5 linked regions of the Homo sapiens genome follow. The protein of the gene in region 5 interacts with the protein of the main gene of each other region in a pairwise test. Each region holds a gene or a part of one and is shown on either strand. Other genes may lie near its edges.

Region 1 (3,500 bases), on a different chromosome or scaffold from region 5:
TCACAAAGAAATGGTAAACATCTGAGGTGATGGATAGGCTAATTAACCCGATTTGATCATTCCACAGTATATGTATATTGAAACATCATGTACCCCATAACTATGTATAATAATTATTATTTGTCAGTTAAAAGTAAAACAACAAGAAAGACAAAGACACAGGGTATCCAAGATGCTGTTTGCTCTTCTCTAAGCATATGTCTCTTCTAGAGATAGAGCCAGGGGCTGACAAGTGATGTAGCTGCTTCCGCTAGACCTAAGTACCTTGAGAGGTGTGTTCAGGGGAGTAAACATTTGCTCCATTACTGTTGCCCTAAAGTTAACAAACCCTCATATCCCCTCAACACAGGCAGAGTCAGGGCAGAGCCTTAGACAGTATTGTAGCACATGGTAACCTGAAGGACAATCTAGTGCATCCCTCAGCTTGCAGATGAGGAGGTTGAGGCACAGGAATGCGGCTTCTCAAGGTCCCCTGTCTGGTTAGGGGCATAGCTAAGCCCAGGACTTAGGTGGCTGAAGAACTCTTTTCCCTTTCTGAACTACTGGGAGACATGCTCCTCTTGTACTTGGTTTTGATAGTACCATGCCTGGTGACATTTGCCAAGAGGTACAGCTGATCTTGTCTTCATGGATGAGGACGGCTCTGAGGATGAAAAGATATATGGCATGTAAAGCACCCAGGTGCCCCCACACCAGTGACCAATAAACAATAGCTCCTCAAAACTGCAGATCTAAGAAAAAGGTGACCAAACCCTCAAGCACTACTAAGGAGCAATAGCTCCTTATGATTATGACTAACAGTATGATGACCACTCATGGAGCCAGTTTAAGGATTAAAGTCATCTGGCTGTTTACCCACTTTATATAAATACACAGGCACACATACATTCATAAAGACACCACTATGCTTTTAGGAAGGCACGTACCTCACTGTTGGCACTTTCCACAAATGACCCCCCGAACATGGCTGCCATCCACTCACAGCTACAGATCAGCAGCGGCTTGTGGGCACTGATGGCTCCATCGTCCAATTTAAATGTCACGTCTGCCAAGGGATTGAGGAAACACAACCATGAGCCAACTTTGCTGAGAGCTTCAACCAAGGCTTCTGCTCCCATAGCCACCAAACTGCGACTCCCTTACTCTCTCTTGCATGTCTTTACTTACTGATTTTATGTCAATCCCCATCTTTGAGCTTTGACACACCCAGCTCCCACCTAAGGCAGCATGCTGTATTTGACATCATCACACATAAAGTCACGGCACAAACTCTCTGAACCAGAAAGTAATAGAAAGGAGGGAATATTTTTTCCTCCTTGCTATGCAAAACTTCAAGCATATAAAACAGTGGAACGAACAGTATGATGACCACTCATTTATCCTTGTTAACATTTTGGCATGTTTGTTTTACGTATATTTTTAATTTACACCATTTTACTTATTAATACTCAATTAAACCTTACATTTATAATATGCTCTACTCGTATGCTATACCAAAATGTAACCGAATTACTGTTTTTTTTAAGAGATGTGGGGGGGGGTGGGTCTGGCTATGTTGTCCAGGCTGGATTTAAACTGCCGGGTTCCAGCAATCCTACTGTCTCAGTCTCTGAAGTAGCTGGGACTGTGGGCAAATTAGCCACCATGCCTGGCTATATGTGTATTTTTGTATAATTTTGTGTATGTGTATAGACTTTTTTTTTTTTACAGATAGCATGGCACTTCACTCCTAACTACCTTATCACAAGTTTTCCCAAAATAACAACAGTCTCCTAAATAACCATACTATGATTACACCTAAGAAAATTAAAAATAATTCCCTATTATCATCCACTATATTGTTCATATTCAAATTTCTCCAATTATCCCTAAATCGTATTTCATAGCTTTAAAAAAAAAAAAACAGAATCCAATTGAGACTCCCACATTGTATTTGATTATTATGCCTCTCCAGTAAGGAGGAGGTGATTTAATCAACTCTACCTAAAGCTCACTGTTTAAGTTACTGTAGGTTTGTAACATATTCTTTTCATTAATTTTCAAGACTGTTTCTGTAACACAATGGCCAGTGTTTGAAGTAAATACTACTCATAAGCTTTAAAATGAATGAACTGAGTCTTTAGGAACCACTTACTAAATGTGTAATGCCCTGGCAGGGATTATAAAAGATAAAGACAAAGGTAGAGGTATCCATATAAATAGAAGTCAGGAAGTCAACATTTTACGATGAAATTACACACACCCACACACCAGCCCAGAGAACAATTTCAGAACAAAAATAGTCCAAGTGTAAGACAGTACAAGCATGGGTCAATAACCCATATTGGATGCGGGCCACCAGCATGCTTAACAATTATGAAAGGGTGCTGCGGGCAGCATATGGCATAGTTATCAAAGGCAAAGGAGGTGCAGGAAAACTACAGAAGTGCAGGGCCAAGGAGCATGAGGACGGAAAAGGAGAGGGGATGGAAACAGATGAGACACCCCTTGTAGGAAGATGGAGGGCCACCAAAATTGCCTCAAGGACTTTAGTGGCCTCAGGACTTGAGATCACTGATTTTTGTCATGGGTCAGTGCTGAAGGGTCAATGGAGAATAGAATTGGTCAGAGAATAGATTCTGAAGGGGAATTGTATGCAACAAGCCCACTGGAGATAGGCTTGGGGTCCCTGATCCACTCTTGAGGAGCAGTGTGGTACCATGGTGGTTTATGGAACAGGTTTTGATACCCACAAGAGCATGGGTTCAAATCCTGGCTCTACCATTTATTGCTGGTGTGACCATGGGCAGATTACCTAACCTCTCTGTCCCTTGGTTTCTCCACCTGCAAAATGGAGACAATCATATTTAACCTTTAAGTCTGATGAGGATTAAAGAAGTTAATGCCTGTAGCTTAGAAAGGTACATGGGAAAAAATAAGTACGTATAAATGTTAGCTATCGTTCTTCTTTCTCCTGCTCATGTCTGGCTAACGTTCAATGAAACACAATCAAAGGTATTAATGGCTCTGCCCCGCGGCCCACTCACCCGAGAACGTTCCCTTGCTGAGACACTCTTTTATCCGATTGGCTTTCCTTACGTGAAAGGCTTTCGTAATCTCCTGGTTCATGAAGGCTTCCTTGTTCATGATGTTTTCCACCATCATCCTCAAATCGAACATCTCGAGGACCTCTGCGATCTGAGCCAGGCCCACCAAATCCTTTTCCTTTTCATCCAGTTGTCCCGTATAAAGAAACTGGAGCAGGGTCCGAAAAGGGCCTGGCTGGACTGAAGCGTCCATCCTGACCACAGTCATGGGCCCCATCCGCTTTGAAATGGGGTTGACTTGCATTTCCCTGTGCATGCCAATGAACCCCTTACTCCATCCGGTCAAAGTCTGTGTCTCAGGAACTGCACCCTCGGCTTCCAGCCCCAGAGCCTCCACCAGGCTCTTGTTTGAAGACTTCCACTGGTCGGCCTGAGGAATCCTAGGCGGGCCCTCCTCCCTTTCTTCCTCTGGGT
Region 2 (3,525 bases), on a different chromosome or scaffold from region 5:
TGCTCACGCCTGTAATCCCAGCACTTTGGGAGGCTGAGGTTGGTGGCTCGCCTAAGATCAAGAGTTTGAGGCCAGTGTGGCCAACATGGGGATACCCTGTCTCTACTAAAAATACAAAAATTAGCCGGGCGTGGTGGTGCACACCTGTAATCTAGCTACTCGGGAAGCTGAGGCAGGTGAATCGCTGGAACCCAGGAGGCAGAGGTTGCAGTGAGCTGAGATCGCATCACTGCACTCCAGCCTGGTCAACACAGCGAGACTCTGTCTCCAAAAAAAAAAAAAAAAAAAGAAAAAAGAAAAAAAAAGAAACAGAGGAAAGTAGTTAGGTGGCAGCCACTAAGAGCTAAGAGGTCATGAAACCGAAGGTAGGGTTGAGGCCCACATCTTGGGCTTGGCTTGAATCCTGCATGTGTGAGGGGCTACAGGTAAGTTCAAGGAGGTAACATGTTTGAAAATCCACACACAAAAAAATAAAGAAAAATACAAAATGAAACAAAACGAAAATCCACACACAGCCAACTTCATCTTAGAGCCACATACAACAAGTATAAAAGAGGGTGTCTTTGAATAACATCAAATCCATTTTTCAGTTTCACTACATAAAAAGGACAGATGGAAAGATAGTTAACATCAAAAAGGTCTTGACATTCCTAGAACAAAAAAGCTTCCAAAGGGGTATAAATCCACAAGCCTTCAGAATCTAGAAGACTAATTAATTTAATTGCGGTCATCAAACAGAAATCTTATAATGCTCTCCAGGAATTAGCTAATGACGAAGAAGGGAGAATGTTCAGGTACCATGACTTGAATCATTTCAAATTACATAATTCATGGTACTTTAAAATCTATAGTAAGCAATCATTTTTTTAGAATGTGGGAAACTGAGGATAAGGCTAGATTACCAAAATGTCTAAACTATTAAATATCTACAATAGTGAAAGATACCACGTAAAGGTAAGATAGCAAAGAGACTGGTGACACTGGATCACATTCCAAGTGGTAATCTGCAAACCAACTACAAAGCCACCTTTGAACATCAAAAAGGAGCCTTTGAGCTGTCAGCTAGATGGAAGAAAACTAAATGAATAAGCCCTTCTCTTCACTTTTGCAAACTGCTGGAGATAAAGTGGATAAAAGAGTTAATTTTTCATCATTAGTGTCAGTTATTCATCCAAATATTCCAGTTAGAGCCAGAAAACTTTTTTTTTTTGAGATGGAGTCTCACTCTGTTGCCCAGGCTGGGGTGCAGTGGTGCCATCTCAGCTCACTGCAACCTCTGCTATCTTAGTTCAAGCGATTCTCCTGCCTCAGCCTCCCAAGTAGCTGGGATTATAGGCGCCCGCTACCACACTCAGACAATTTTCGTATTTTTAGTAGACAGGGTTTCTTTCTTTCTTTTTTTTTTTTTAGATGGGAGTTTCGCTCCTGTTGCCCAGGCTGGAGTGCAATGGCGTGATCTCGGCTCACCACAACCTCCTCCTCCCGGGTTCAAGCCATTCTCCTGCCTCAGCCTCCCAAGTAGCTGGGATTACAGGCATGTGCCACCACCCCAGCTACTTTTGTATTTTTAGTAGAGACAGGGTTTCTCCATGTTAGTCAGGCTCGTCTTGAACTCCTGACCTCAGGTGATCCACCTGCCTCGGCCTCCCAAAGTGCTGGGATTACAGGCATGAGCCACCACGCCCGGCCAGTAGACAGGGTTTCACCATGTTGGCCAGGCTGGTCTTGAACTCCTGACCTCAAGTGATCTGCCCTCCTCAGCCTCCCAGAGTGCTGGGATTACAGGCGTGAGCCACCATACCTGGCCTAGAGCCAGAAAACTTTGATATATGAAATCTAACATAGAAAGACCAAGGCATTATTTTTTACTTTTAAAAGTAAACTTATGCCAGGCATGGTGCCTCATGCCTGTAATCCCAGCACTTTGGGAGGCTGAGGCAAGTGGATCACTTGAGGCCTGAAGTTCAAGACCAGCCTGGTCAATATGGCGAAACACCATCTCTACTAAAAATACAAAAATTAGCCAGGCATTGTGGCACACACCTGTAATCACAGCTACTCAGGTGGCTGAGACATGAGAATCGCTTGAACCTGGGAGGCAGAGGTTGCAGTAAGCCGAGATCATGCCACTGCACTCCTGCCTGGGTGACAGAGGAAAACTCTGCCTCAAAAAAAGAAGAAAAAAGAATAATTTTCCTGCCTTCTTAATGGCAGGAAAATTCTGTGCTGCAATAGATTATACCTAAAGCATCTACTACCAGTATCTGATGGGAAAAGAGGCAATTATGCTACAACACAGGTAGTCATGGTGGAGCACGACTCTGCCTTCTTACTGTTAACTCTGTAGTTGCAGTTTCTTAAAACAGTCTAATCGCATGAAAGAGAGGGTCTATTTTCCTGGCTATACTTCAAGCTTCTTTTTTTTTTTTTTGAGATGGAGTCTCCCTCTGTCGCCCAGGCTGGAGTGGTGCAGTGGTGCGATCTTGGCTCACTACAAGCTCCGCCTCCTGGGTTCACACCATTCTCCTGCTTCAGCCTCCCGAGCAGCTGGGACTACAGGCACCCATCACCATGCCTGGCTAATTTTTTTTGTATTTTTAGTAGAGACGGGGTTTCACCGTGTTAGCCAGGATGGTCTCGATCTCCTGACCTCATGATCTGCCCGTCTCGGCCTCCCAAAGTGCTGGGATTACAGGCGTGAGCCACCGCGCCCGGCCGACTTCAAGCTTCTTGAGGGCAAGGACTTTCAATTACTTACAGAATCCCAAGGGCCAAATAGAAGCTATTATGGCCATTCAAACACACGACAAACATATGACGAATGGCAGGATGTGAAATAGATGTGCCGTAACATCTTTCTTTCCTCTAACTAGGTGGGCAAATTCCCTTTCGCTCTTGTTACTGTATCTGAGTTAATATCAAAATCAAGGCCAGGTGCGGTAGCTCACACCTGTAATTCCAGAACTTTGGGAGGATGAGGTGGGCGGGTTGCTTGAGTTCAGGAGTTTGAGACCAGCCTGGCCAACAAGGCTCGTTTCTACCCAAAATACAAAAAATTAGCCAGGTGTGGTAGCTTGCAGCTGTAGTCCCAGCTACTCGGTAGGCTGAGGTAGGAAAATCACCTGAGCCTGGGAAGCCAAGGCTGCAGTGAGCTGTGATCACGCCACTGCACTCCAACCTGGGCAACGGGAGTGAGACCTTGTCCTCCCTCTCCCCGCCAAAATCAAGACACCATCATAAAGAGCAGCTTGATATTATGTTCTTAGAAGCATGGTTCAGGCTGGGTGTGGTGGCTCACTCCTGTAATCCTAGCACTTTGGGAGGCCAGCCTGGGGGAGAGAGTGAGACTCTGTCTCAAAAAAAAAAAAAAAAAAAAAAAAAAGCATGGTTCACAAGCAGCTGCTGAAGCGTACCCCATGAGACTGGTTTCAAGTGGCTCACAGGAGCTGCATGTGACTCGATCACATGCTAAAGGCTCATCTCCATAAAGAGTGGCCAAGCTGGGCGCAGTGCCTCACGCCTGTA
Region 3 (3,525 bases), on a different chromosome or scaffold from region 5:
ACTGAAGGACAGATGTCAAACACAATAGTACTGAAGGGTGGATGTCACACATATGGTACCAAAGGTAGGTATCAGACATATCAACTTGAGAAACAGTAGAAAGCAGTGCGGTTGACCCAAAGCTGCAATGTGACCTCATTCTAGGATGTTTACAGGTCCAGCCCCCAGAGCTTACTGCACCAGTCAAGACAAAAATTCCACCCCAGCACACATACCCACCACTCATTATAAACACGAGGATCATATCATCTTGAAGCTGTGCTGTACACAACTGTGGGAAATCAAAATCAATTTAAAGAACCAGTCATAAACATTTGTATAAACAGAGTTTCCACACCTGGCTATTACCTGCTACTGGGTATTAAGGAATAAAGTGGTGTAGCTTTTTCTTTCATAAAGACTCACTACCATGGTTTTTCTGCATGTTGTCATGTTCCATTGACCCAGGCAGTGATTCCCGAATGTTCGCCCATATCAGAATTGTCTGGAGGGCTATGAAAATAGAGACTGCTGCCCCATCCCCAGTGGTCTGATTCTGTAGGTCTCCGGTGGGGGCTGAAAACTTGCATTTCTAACAGGTCTGCCCGTGATGAGGATGCTGGTCTGGGAACTGCTCTTGGAAAACCACTGGGCGAGGATATTTGGGAATCTTAGTGGATCCCTTTGAGCCTTCATCCTCTGCAGGCTTCTTGACATCTGAAATGGCTGTGGGCGTGGTCAGCTCATGTTCGGGGCCTGGAGATACTTCAGAGGGCTAGGTAGGGGCTAGCTCAGCCGACCTGGCACCTCTGCCAGGCCTCCGGGCCTTCTCTGCTCTCTTGTGCCCCCACAAATGCCAGTTCTGTGCTTCCAGAACACATAGGCAGCTCTCTCTGAACACGTTCGTGTGGTGACCACAGGGATGCACTGTGATGGGCTAGCTGTCTGTACTTATTAGAAAAATAATTTCTAAGCAAATAAGGCATATCCAGGAGGGGCAGTGTTTATCTCTCCCTTGGAAAGGCTGATTGGCTGTATGGGAGATAATGTTTTTAATTAACCTACGTAATGCTTTTGGAGGAATCTTTGCAGCTTCCATCCTGTGGAGCCTTAAGATCACCGGGCCTGTCGTTACGTAAAGAACACTGCCATTTTAGGACCTTTCTGTGATCTCTTTTCAGAGGCACAAAGGAGTTTGATCTATGAGGAGGAAGTTGAAATTGGACTACTAAATTTGCGTAAACAGCTAAGAAAATTAAAGTTAAAACAACCTATATAACCAAGCCCAGAGCAATAGAGAGAGGATGATCGTGTTAATTTAAGCTTAGTGCAGCAATCGGAATACTGCCCCAGCCTACCTGCAAATGTACCTCCTTCTCTTCGTAGAAAGCTATGCGATGTCTTGTTGCCCTGAGAAGCTATTAGAGACAGTTGCTCTTTTTGCAAAATGAAGTGACTGAGACTGGAAGTGCCTGGTCCTGCCTCAGTGGATTAGGATTGGGTTTCTCAGCCCCTGCACCATTGGCATTCAGCCCTGGGCACTGTGGGATTTAGAGCAGCATCCTTGGCTTCTGCCCATGGATACGAGTACTACGTCTGGAATTGTTAACAGCTACAAATGTCCCTAGGCATTGCCAGATATCCATCCGCTGGGGGGCAAAATTGCCCCTAGTTGAGAATCACTGGAGTAGGAATGTGATTATGGATAACATTAACGTTACCAGAAGTGTGTTGATTCCGATCTTATTAAAGCTTATTATGTGGATTATTATAAAGTGTTGGGGTTGATATTCCAACTCAGGTATTGGCCACCAGTTGTCTTGCAAAGATGCCATAATATGCCGAAAACTTAATTTTTCCAGTGAGTCCCGGACCTCTTTGGACACCAGGAGGAATTGTGATGCAATGTGGGCCAGACCCTCTCCCTGTGGCCCCCACCCCCACAGCCCTCCTGTTGGGATCGGGGATGGGGCCTCCCACCCAGATGATACCTGAGCCTGCCTCTCCCCCACCGTCTTCCCTCCTCCCCCAGGAAAAGCCCTGCTGTCCTTACAAGTCTTGGGCCAATTAAAAGTATTGATTGGCTGGGCGCGGAGGCTCACGCCTGTAATCCCAGCACTTTGGGAGGCGGAGGCGGGTGGATTGCGTGAGGTCAGGAGTTCGAGACCAGCCTGACCAACATGGTGAAACCCCATCTCTACTAAAAATACAAAAATTAGCCAGGTGTGGTGGCAGGTGCCTGTAATCCCAGCTACTCAGGAGGCTGAGGCAGGAGAATCGCTTTAACTGGGGAGGCAGAGGTTGCAGTGAGCCGAGATCGCACCATTGCACTCCAGTCTGGGCAACAAGAATGACACTTTGTCTCAAAAAAAAAAAAAAAAACATTGATCTAAACTGTGAATGACCAGTTGATTTAACCCTCCTTGGGCGTAACTGGTCTTCAAAACAGCATTTTATTGACCCAGATGAATCTTTTCTAGGAGGGATGTGCGATGCTCTGAGCCCTTTGGCCACCCCTTGCCAGGATTATGCCTTGTTTAGCAGTGTGAAATCACTTACTCTCCTCTCCTTATCACCTCCTGGGACAAGGAAGATAAAAAATCAGAAACAACAGCATTGTCCTCTCTCTGCACCCATGATTGGATCCTTATTGTTTAGTGAAGGATAATCCCTAAACTTCCAGAGAAAACATGAACCATGTGGTCTTTATGATTCGAGCATTCCCGCCCCTTTTCTAAGCTTGACAGCATTCTTGTTTCAACTGATTGGCGACTTTACTTTCTTTTAAAACTCATTGGGGCCAGTGCGGTGGCTCATGCCTGTAATCCCAGCACATTGGGAGGCTGAGGTAGATAGATCGCCTGAGGTCAGGAGTTTGAGACCAGCCTGGCGAACATGATGAAGCCTTGTCTCTACTAAAAATACAAAAGTAGCCGTGTGTGGTGGCACATGCCTGTAATCCCAGCTACTCCGGAGGCTGAGGCAGGAGAATTCCTTGAACCCAAGAGGCGGAGGTTGCAGTGAGCTGAGATTGTGCTACTATACTCTAGCCTGGGTGACAGAGAGAGACTCCATCTCAAAAAAAAACCTCATTGGAAGCATCCTTCAGTGCACAGTTGATTTTCTTCTAATCTCCTGCTTCATCCACAAAATTAATGTCACAGTGACTCTTAACTGCCATCCCTTTCTGTGTTGTTACTTGAGGTGAAGGATAGTATTTATTCTTTAGTTTCTATTAAAGAACAGAATTATTTTGACACCACTTGACATGGTAAGGAAGGCTTTATTCAAGACCATTGCAATGCCATTGAGCTCAACTTGGAATACAGCTAGACGAGTAGGGATTTATAGCCAAAGAAGAGAGGGGAGGGGGTAGTGGATGGGAAATTAGGGGGATTTTTGCTAACCTGACCTGGCAGGATTCCTGCTAAAGGCAGGCTAAGGACTTAGACATTGACAAAGGCCCCTTTGAGTCCTCTTTCTGATTAGACCCTGCTCTCTGGCTGTCCAGTAGGTCCAGTTTTTAGCAAGAATCCTGCTGAATCA
Region 4 (3,525 bases), on a different chromosome or scaffold from region 5:
GGGGACAGGCCCTGAAACCAGTTTACACTGGATGTGTATGCAAATCATTACAACAAGCAGTCAGGGGGTTGGCTTCAGCTCACAGAGCAGAAGACATTTAGGACTGGCAAACAATCTCACTGCCAGGCAGTTTGAGGCCAGGAAGATGACAAACTCTACCATACGCTGTGTATTCCAGGGCAGGTCACTTAATCTCTTTGAACCCCAACCTCCATACGTGCAAAACAGAGCAAATCATCTGCCCTGACAACCACACAGTAGGGAGAGATGTCTGATGAAACAACAGATGTGGAAGCAATTTGTAGACTTTAAAGCTCTATTGTTAGCATTTCTTGTTACTTTTATAACTATCTCCCAGCCTTAGTCTTTCACCAGCAAACGTGTGTCAAAGTACAGCATTTAAGAGGAAACCCAGAAGCAGAGATGTCCCAACAAACTCACACCAAACACCTTCTGAGAAAGTCCAGGAAGCTGGTGTCATAGGTTTTCAGCACCATCGTGAGGTCCTTGGAATCTGGGTATCTTTTTTTCCCCCTGTTGTTGGTTATATTTTTAGGAAAACCTTTGGAATCTGTAGAGATAGAACATTCTGTATTTAGTTTCAGGTGTAAATCTTTAGTGGTCACATGATGCTGCTGCTTAGAGTGGCCTCTGTAGCTCTTTTGCTCTCTGTCTTACACACTCGCCTCATGCCACACCCCAATAAACACACACACACACACTCAGTTTGAAATAACCATGTGTAGATTACCCAAGGAATGCAATTTACTTTAAAAATTGATTTTTTCCTACTATTCAGTATGTTCTGAACTTCCTTCCCACTGCCTCCTCTCCAAATCAAAGAAATAATTTAAATGGCTTAACACCAACCAAGATAAAATAATAATGCTAATGATAATAATGACAATGGTAAAGTAAATGTTAAGTGACAAGGTCCTGTGAAATTGTACAAATATCCATTTCCTTTTGGATCATGGCCTTAGCCCTCCCACTTCATCCTACATTGTCCTTTTTACCAATGACCAAAGAAGAATCAAGCTCACAGTCTTATCAATAACAAAGCTCCTAAAGTCATGATCATGTAATTGTTTTTTCTCACTCTGGCCCTCATCAGTCATTCCCTCCATCCCCTTCTTACTACCTGAGCCACCTGGGCCACCTAAGTATAATATCTTACCAGCCTTGAGACAACACCATTTTGCTGCTAATTAGGGGTATTAACTAGGAGTCGCCCGGGGCAGAGGAGCAGTTGGCAGCCCAAACCTGGGAAAGGAACAGTCAAGAACTGAAGTGGACAACCGTGTTTCCCAAACTTATTTTGTCATAAGAATCACAAGGAGCCGTCATTAAAAACGTCGAATCCTGGGTCCTATCGCAATCTTCCCATAGCATAGCTTATAGAAGAGAATCACAGGAATTCGCTTTTTTGCCAAGTCCCCAAATGATTCTTACATTTGGATAGAGTTTGGAAAACACTGACGAAGATGCAGTTCTCAGCAACATTCCTTCTTTCACAGGAAGTGAAGACATGGATATTGCTGCCAAAACCCCATCACCATCCTAAAGCCTAGTGCTGATGGTAGAAATAAGGAACTCTATGAAGTAGACATGCCTATGTCTTTAGTACGTTCCTACGAAGGTGCTCTGTGTTCCCTTCCTGCTAGTCCCCACCTAGATGCTATCTCATGAGTTCAGAGTTACAGGCTCAAGATATGTCTTCCCACAGTGACTCTGCCTAATCCAAAAGGCTGAATTATTAAGTTGTGGGTAGAAAAAGTATATTTGGGATCCAAAGACCAGTTCGCGTGCTCCATGTGTAAATTATACTGGGGAGCCAGCCAGATCCTTTGCCTACCGCCAGATTGCTCGGTTAATGTGTGGTCACCATTCTATGGCAACCAGGACACTGCCCTGCTCAGAGGCAAGGTCTCCAAAGCTCCAGCCATGATTACCAGATGATGTTTAAAAGAATTAACCATTGGAATGAATGGCATGGAACCAACTAATCAGAATGGAAGACAGCCCTGGCACTGGAGTAGGATCATAGAGAACTTCTGCTTGCTTGGCCTTCAGCTTTTAGGTTTTTGGATCATGGAGAGTTTAAGGAGTCCTGGGAGAGGGCCAGGGAGCCTGCAGTTGTAGCAGGGCTCAGGGCTGTGGCTTTTTACCAAATGGTACAGAAATAGACAAATTATAACCCCCACATGGCTGAATCAGTTCATACTGACCAGCATGACCCAAACCCTTTTATCCTAAAGGATCTCCCCACGAGAGTGTTTTGGACCTTCCTACTGATGGAGCAAGTTGTGAACAGAAATTGTGTGATTTGCATACATATTCAGAAGCTGCTCGCAGTTGAAAATCAGAGGTGGGAGGGCCAGGAATGTCTGGGATTGTGTGGTCAGAGGGAGTCCATGAACCGACCTGACAACAATGGCTGGTCAGAAATGTCACTCCAGGTAGCATGGAGTCCCTGTCTGTGGAGTTCCCTTTTCCTCCTATTTGGCTTTGCTCCACTTTGCTGACCTTCAGCCCACTCTGGCTGTTTCTATCTGGGACTCTTAGCTTCCTGTGGTTCTTTAAAGGGATTTTAGGTATGAGATTTGCTGCATCTTTTTGGTGCGTGTACGTTGAAAGCCCTGCCTCAGTTGATACCTTGTCGACCCATCCTTCCATCTTGTATAGGACCACTTAAATAGAAAGGCGGAGGATCATAAAAATCCAGAATTCTGGGAATTATGAGGAGAGGGGCAGCCTGGACTGTGGACGAAGTTTACTCCCAACAATCAGACAGATGACACGTACATAACTACCAGCCACAACACATCAAAGCAAAACTAAGTCCTTGCTTAACCATTGGCAATGAACCTGGCACAGTAAGGTCTGGAGGATAAGAAGAATTTTAGCAGGGGAAACAATAATGCAGCAATGGAATTTTCCACTATTCTTGAAATGAAGCTTCTGCTCTTTGATTTCCCTGCACAGTGCATAGTGTGAGAGGGCAAGTTGCTTGGGAGAGTGGGGAGAACTTCCGGGAGAGGATGCAGTTACAATATTTTGAGGTTGCAATATTTGCTGATAGCTCTTCTGAGCAGGGACCTGGCTATTCTCCTCCTCCTGAGCATTTTTACTGTCAAGACCCTGTTCCCACTGTGACTCCCCCATCCCATCTCCAACATGCTATCCGATTCCCCTGCTCATTATCTTTTACTTCTCTGAAAGACGCTCTTAATCACAGCCCTTTGGTATGTGGCCAGGGGAAAAGAATGAAATGAGCCTTAAGGTATGGCAGGTGTCTTCAAGGCCTGTGACACCTCATGAGACACACTAGGACTTACCAAAGAATGTCTGTCTCCTGGAGGCTGTCTGAATGAAGCCGGCTGGCGGCAGACCCAGCACCTTAATAAGGATAATTCAATTGGTTCATTCTTTGTGGGAGCACAGATTCAAAGGCTGAGGGGTGGAGCGTACTTTGGCCAAGCTTTGCCTTCTACAGATAAGGATTCAAAGCATTAAGTAATAACA
Region 5 (3,525 bases):
CCTCAGCCTCATGAGTAGCTGGGACTGCAGGCTCCCGCCACCACGCCCGGCTAATTTTTTGTATTTTTATTAAAGACAGGGGGGTTTCACCGTGTTAGCCAGGGTGGTCTCGATATCCTGACCTTGTGATCCGCCCGTCTCAGCCTCCCAAAGTGTTGGGATTACAGGCGTGAGCCACCGTGTCTCGCCAGTATCTTATTATTTTATTAAGTGTATGTAGAAATAATGATATTTAATTTTTGCATGCCAAATTATTTTCATTTACTTTTACATTCCCTTTACCCCAACATTTAAATACAATGAAATTGTAGTAATTTATGTACAACTAAATACACAACATGTAATATCTAAGCAAAACTTACAACAACATAGGATTGAAATAGACAAGTTGTGAACCATTTTGTTAGAAGTATTTGGTGTGCCACATTTACTGTAGTATGTGTCCATAGATTGTTGCATTTGTAATACCTGTTCTAAATATGGGAAACTTGGTTGTAATTTATGCTAAGTATGTGAGAAGCTATAAAATTGCCATGTGTAGGTTACTATGGGCATATATTATTAATGGAAACTAACTAAAATTTGCTGCTGAAAGTCACTGAAATAAAGTTTAGTAAAACTTTGTAAATCTTGCTTTGAAATATTTTAAAAATGTATACAACTTTAAGCTCTAAACTACTCTTAGAACTGTAGACCAAGGTAGGCAAATTAGGGCCTGCCTGGTGCACTACCAGTTTTGTTAAAAAAAAAAAAAAAATCAAGAGTATTTACACATGAAAATTTATATAAATTTTCAGGGTCCATGAAGTTTTATTTGAAACATAGTCACACTGAATAATTTATGTATTATCTGTGGCTACTTTCTTGCTACAGCGTCAGAGTAGTTGAGTCAGAGCTCTATGGCTCACATTTTAAAATATTTATTATCTGATACTTTACAGAAAAAACATTGGTCAGCCTCTGATCTAGAAACTCTTAATGCCATTTTAAAAAGTTATTGATTGTAAAACTTTTAAAATTATCATTGTAAAGTTCTGACACTGTGTTCTCCCAGTAAGTTGTTATTGCAAAGAAACACTAGACATATGGGAAAACTGTATTTTAAAATCTGTATTTTAGTCTTGTGAAAAATGATATTAAAAAATGGATAGGATCCAGAGTTTTCATTCTAAATTTAAAAAGTATAGTGAGATAGACCAAATTTTGAAGTACAGATATTGGCTTAGGATGCTACCTGGGAAACATTAGGGATTGCTCTCAGGAAAATATTGAAGAAGTGGTATTTATATTATACATTTCATAAAAACTTTACCTGAGGTGTAATGAAGTAAATCCTAGTATAGTTCATTTGATTTGTTTTCATGATTATCAGTTAAACCTTTGGAAATACCCATAAGACTTAAACTGGCTTTAAAATTTCTTCCTCATTACAGGGACTACCAATTACCTCTTAATTAGTGACCCTTTTTGTAGACGTTTTGTAGTGTCATTAGGTCTGCATTAGAGTTATGTAGGATAAAGTATTTATGAACTCAAAACTGCAGTTGCCATGTTTTTGTGACATTACTTGTTTATTATGGTTTTTGACATCTCTTCCATGTAAATTTAAATTTGCTAGGACATTTAATTGATGGTTTCAAAGCATCTCATCTAAAAGTTGTGTTTTATAAATTACAATAATAACCATTAACTAGCCTACTTCTTCATGTTTTCATATCAATATATGTATATTTTTAATAGTCATGTGGTCAGCAAATGGGGGTAATGGAGAAATAAGCTTCTCTCAGTATTATAGCGTGAACAGAGATTCGTGTTTTTTTCTTTAATCTTTAATGTAGCCAATTTGTGTTTTCTGATTTGTAGACCTTGGTTGCATGTACAAGTTATTTAGTCGTGTGCCAAATGGTTTGAAAACAATGTGTGAGTGTATGAGTTCCTATTTGAGGGAGCAAGGTAAAGCTCTTGTTTCTGAAGAAGGAGAAGGAAAGAATCCTGTTGACTATATCCAGGTAAGTAAACCCAGAAGATTCTCTGTGTTTATGATAAAGGCATTTTGACAAGTGCTAAAAAGGCCACTTTTACCATGCTGTGTATTGTGTACTTTCAACTTAATTGTCCCAGTAGTAAATTAATATTTGTAATTATCCTACATATTTTAGGATTTTGCAAGGTGTGCGTATTTATATCAGGGAGCTAAAATTCAGCTGCTACTTTTCATTTAACTTCTTTGATGAAGACCTTGTTTAAATAGCCTCAATAGTGAATGTGAGGTTCTTTGGTATGCCTTAGTGTTTGTATACTGTAGTATATTGGAAAAAACAACTGGTTTAAGTATTTTTTGTTTGAAAATGTTTTGTTTTCAAGGAGTACTATGAATAAATTATGTGCCATGTTTTGTGTTTTAACATAATCAGCTTTTTTTGGTACATTTTTTAAGCTAATTTTTTTCACTGGCTAACCCATTCCATCAAGACAGGAGAATGAGAAACAGTGAGGAGGTTCTTTGGTTCGTTTGCATTGTATTAATACATATATGGAAGTTATAATACTTCTCTCATTGACATTTTTAATAGAGGCTTAGATATAGGCTTGAAAATAATATCAAAACTGTAAGTTTAAAAATGAATATACATGTTTATTACCAGCAAAGTTAAGATAAACATACATGGTCATAAGTGTATTATTTATGGAAAAATTATTATAATGTGTCCTAAATTTTGTTTTTATTTCTAAGGGCTTATTGGATCTGAAGAGTAGGTTCGATCGCTTCCTCCTGGAATCATTCAACAATGACCGTCTCTTTAAACAAACTATTGCGGGTGACTTTGAGTATTTTCTCAACCTCAACTCCAGGTCTCCTGAATACCTCTCATTATTTATTGATGATAAGCTGAAAAAGGGAGTCAAAGGGGTAAGTAGTAATGCATTTGAAAATAACATTTAATTTTATTTAAAGATATAAAATTATATGTAAAATTAGGACATTTCACAGATAAAAATTAAGCATGACCCATTGCTGTGCTTAAATGGGTGCCATGGTCTATTAAAAAATATTGTTTGAAATACTTGACATGCCCAAACGTAGTTAGACATTTCACTTAATGTGTAATTGGCTTCAAAAACAAGCAACTGGATGGGCTTGGTGGCTCATGCCTATAATCCCAGCATTTGGGGAGGCCAAGACAGGAGGCTCTCTTGAGGCCAGGAGTTTGAAATTAGCCTTGTTAACTTAGTGAGACTCCATCTCTACAAAAAAAAAGAAAAAAGAAAAAAATTAGTGGCACACAGTGGTATACACCTGTTGTCCCAGAAGCTGAGGCAGAGGATCACTTGAGCTCAGGAGTTCAAGGCTGCAGTGAGCTGTGATCGCGTGACTGCACTCTATGCTGGGCGACAGAGCAAGACCTTGTCTCAAAAAAACTGAACAACTGTCCAGGTATGGTGGCTCATGCCTGTAATCTCAGCACTTTGGGAGGCCGAGGTGGGCAGACCACCTGAGGTTGGGAGTTTGAGACCAGCCTGACC

The links.
Region 1: the proteins of CUL3 (region 5) and RHOBTB1 interact in a two-hybrid assay, tested with the Homo sapiens proteins (one study listed by BioGRID).
Region 2: the proteins of CUL3 (region 5) and KCTD2 interact in a two-hybrid assay, tested with the Homo sapiens proteins (one study listed by BioGRID).
Region 3: the proteins of CUL3 (region 5) and CAMK1D interact in a two-hybrid assay, tested with the Homo sapiens proteins (one large-scale study listed by BioGRID and IntAct).
Region 4: the proteins of CUL3 (region 5) and DYRK4 interact in a two-hybrid assay, tested with the Homo sapiens proteins (one large-scale study listed by BioGRID and IntAct).

Annotation. Positions count from the first base shown.
Region 1 is NC_000010.11:60,885,186-60,888,685, forward strand, and holds part of RHOBTB1 (rho-related BTB domain-containing protein 1), read right to left. Parts: coding exon 3,027-3,500; intron 1,046-3,026; coding exon 927-1,045; intron 644-926; coding exon of another isoform or gene 626-643; exon of another isoform or gene 1-625.
Region 2 is NC_000017.11:75,053,716-75,057,240, reverse strand, and holds part of KCTD2 (BTB/POZ domain-containing protein KCTD2), read right to left. Parts: intron 1-3,525.
Region 3 is NC_000010.11:12,762,038-12,765,562, forward strand, and holds part of CAMK1D (calcium/calmodulin-dependent protein kinase type 1D), read left to right. Parts: intron 1-3,525. UniProt on the Homo sapiens protein: Calcium/calmodulin-dependent protein kinase that operates in the calcium-triggered CaMKK-CaMK1 signaling cascade and, upon calcium influx, activates CREB-dependent gene transcription, regulates calcium-mediated granulocyte function and respiratory burst and promotes basal dendritic growth of hippocampal neurons.
Region 4 is NC_000012.12:4,607,201-4,610,725, reverse strand, and holds part of DYRK4 (dual specificity tyrosine-phosphorylation-regulated kinase 4), read right to left. Parts: intron 3,400-3,525; coding exon 3,339-3,399; intron 572-3,338; coding exon 442-571; intron 1-441. UniProt on the Homo sapiens protein: Possible non-essential role in spermiogenesis.
Region 5 is NC_000002.12:224,505,342-224,508,866, reverse strand, and holds part of CUL3 (cullin-3), read left to right. Parts: intron 1-1,863; coding exon 1,864-2,009; intron 2,010-2,734; coding exon 2,735-2,911; intron 2,912-3,525. UniProt on the Homo sapiens protein: Core component of multiple cullin-RING-based BCR (BTB-CUL3-RBX1) E3 ubiquitin-protein ligase complexes which mediate the ubiquitination and subsequent proteasomal degradation of target proteins.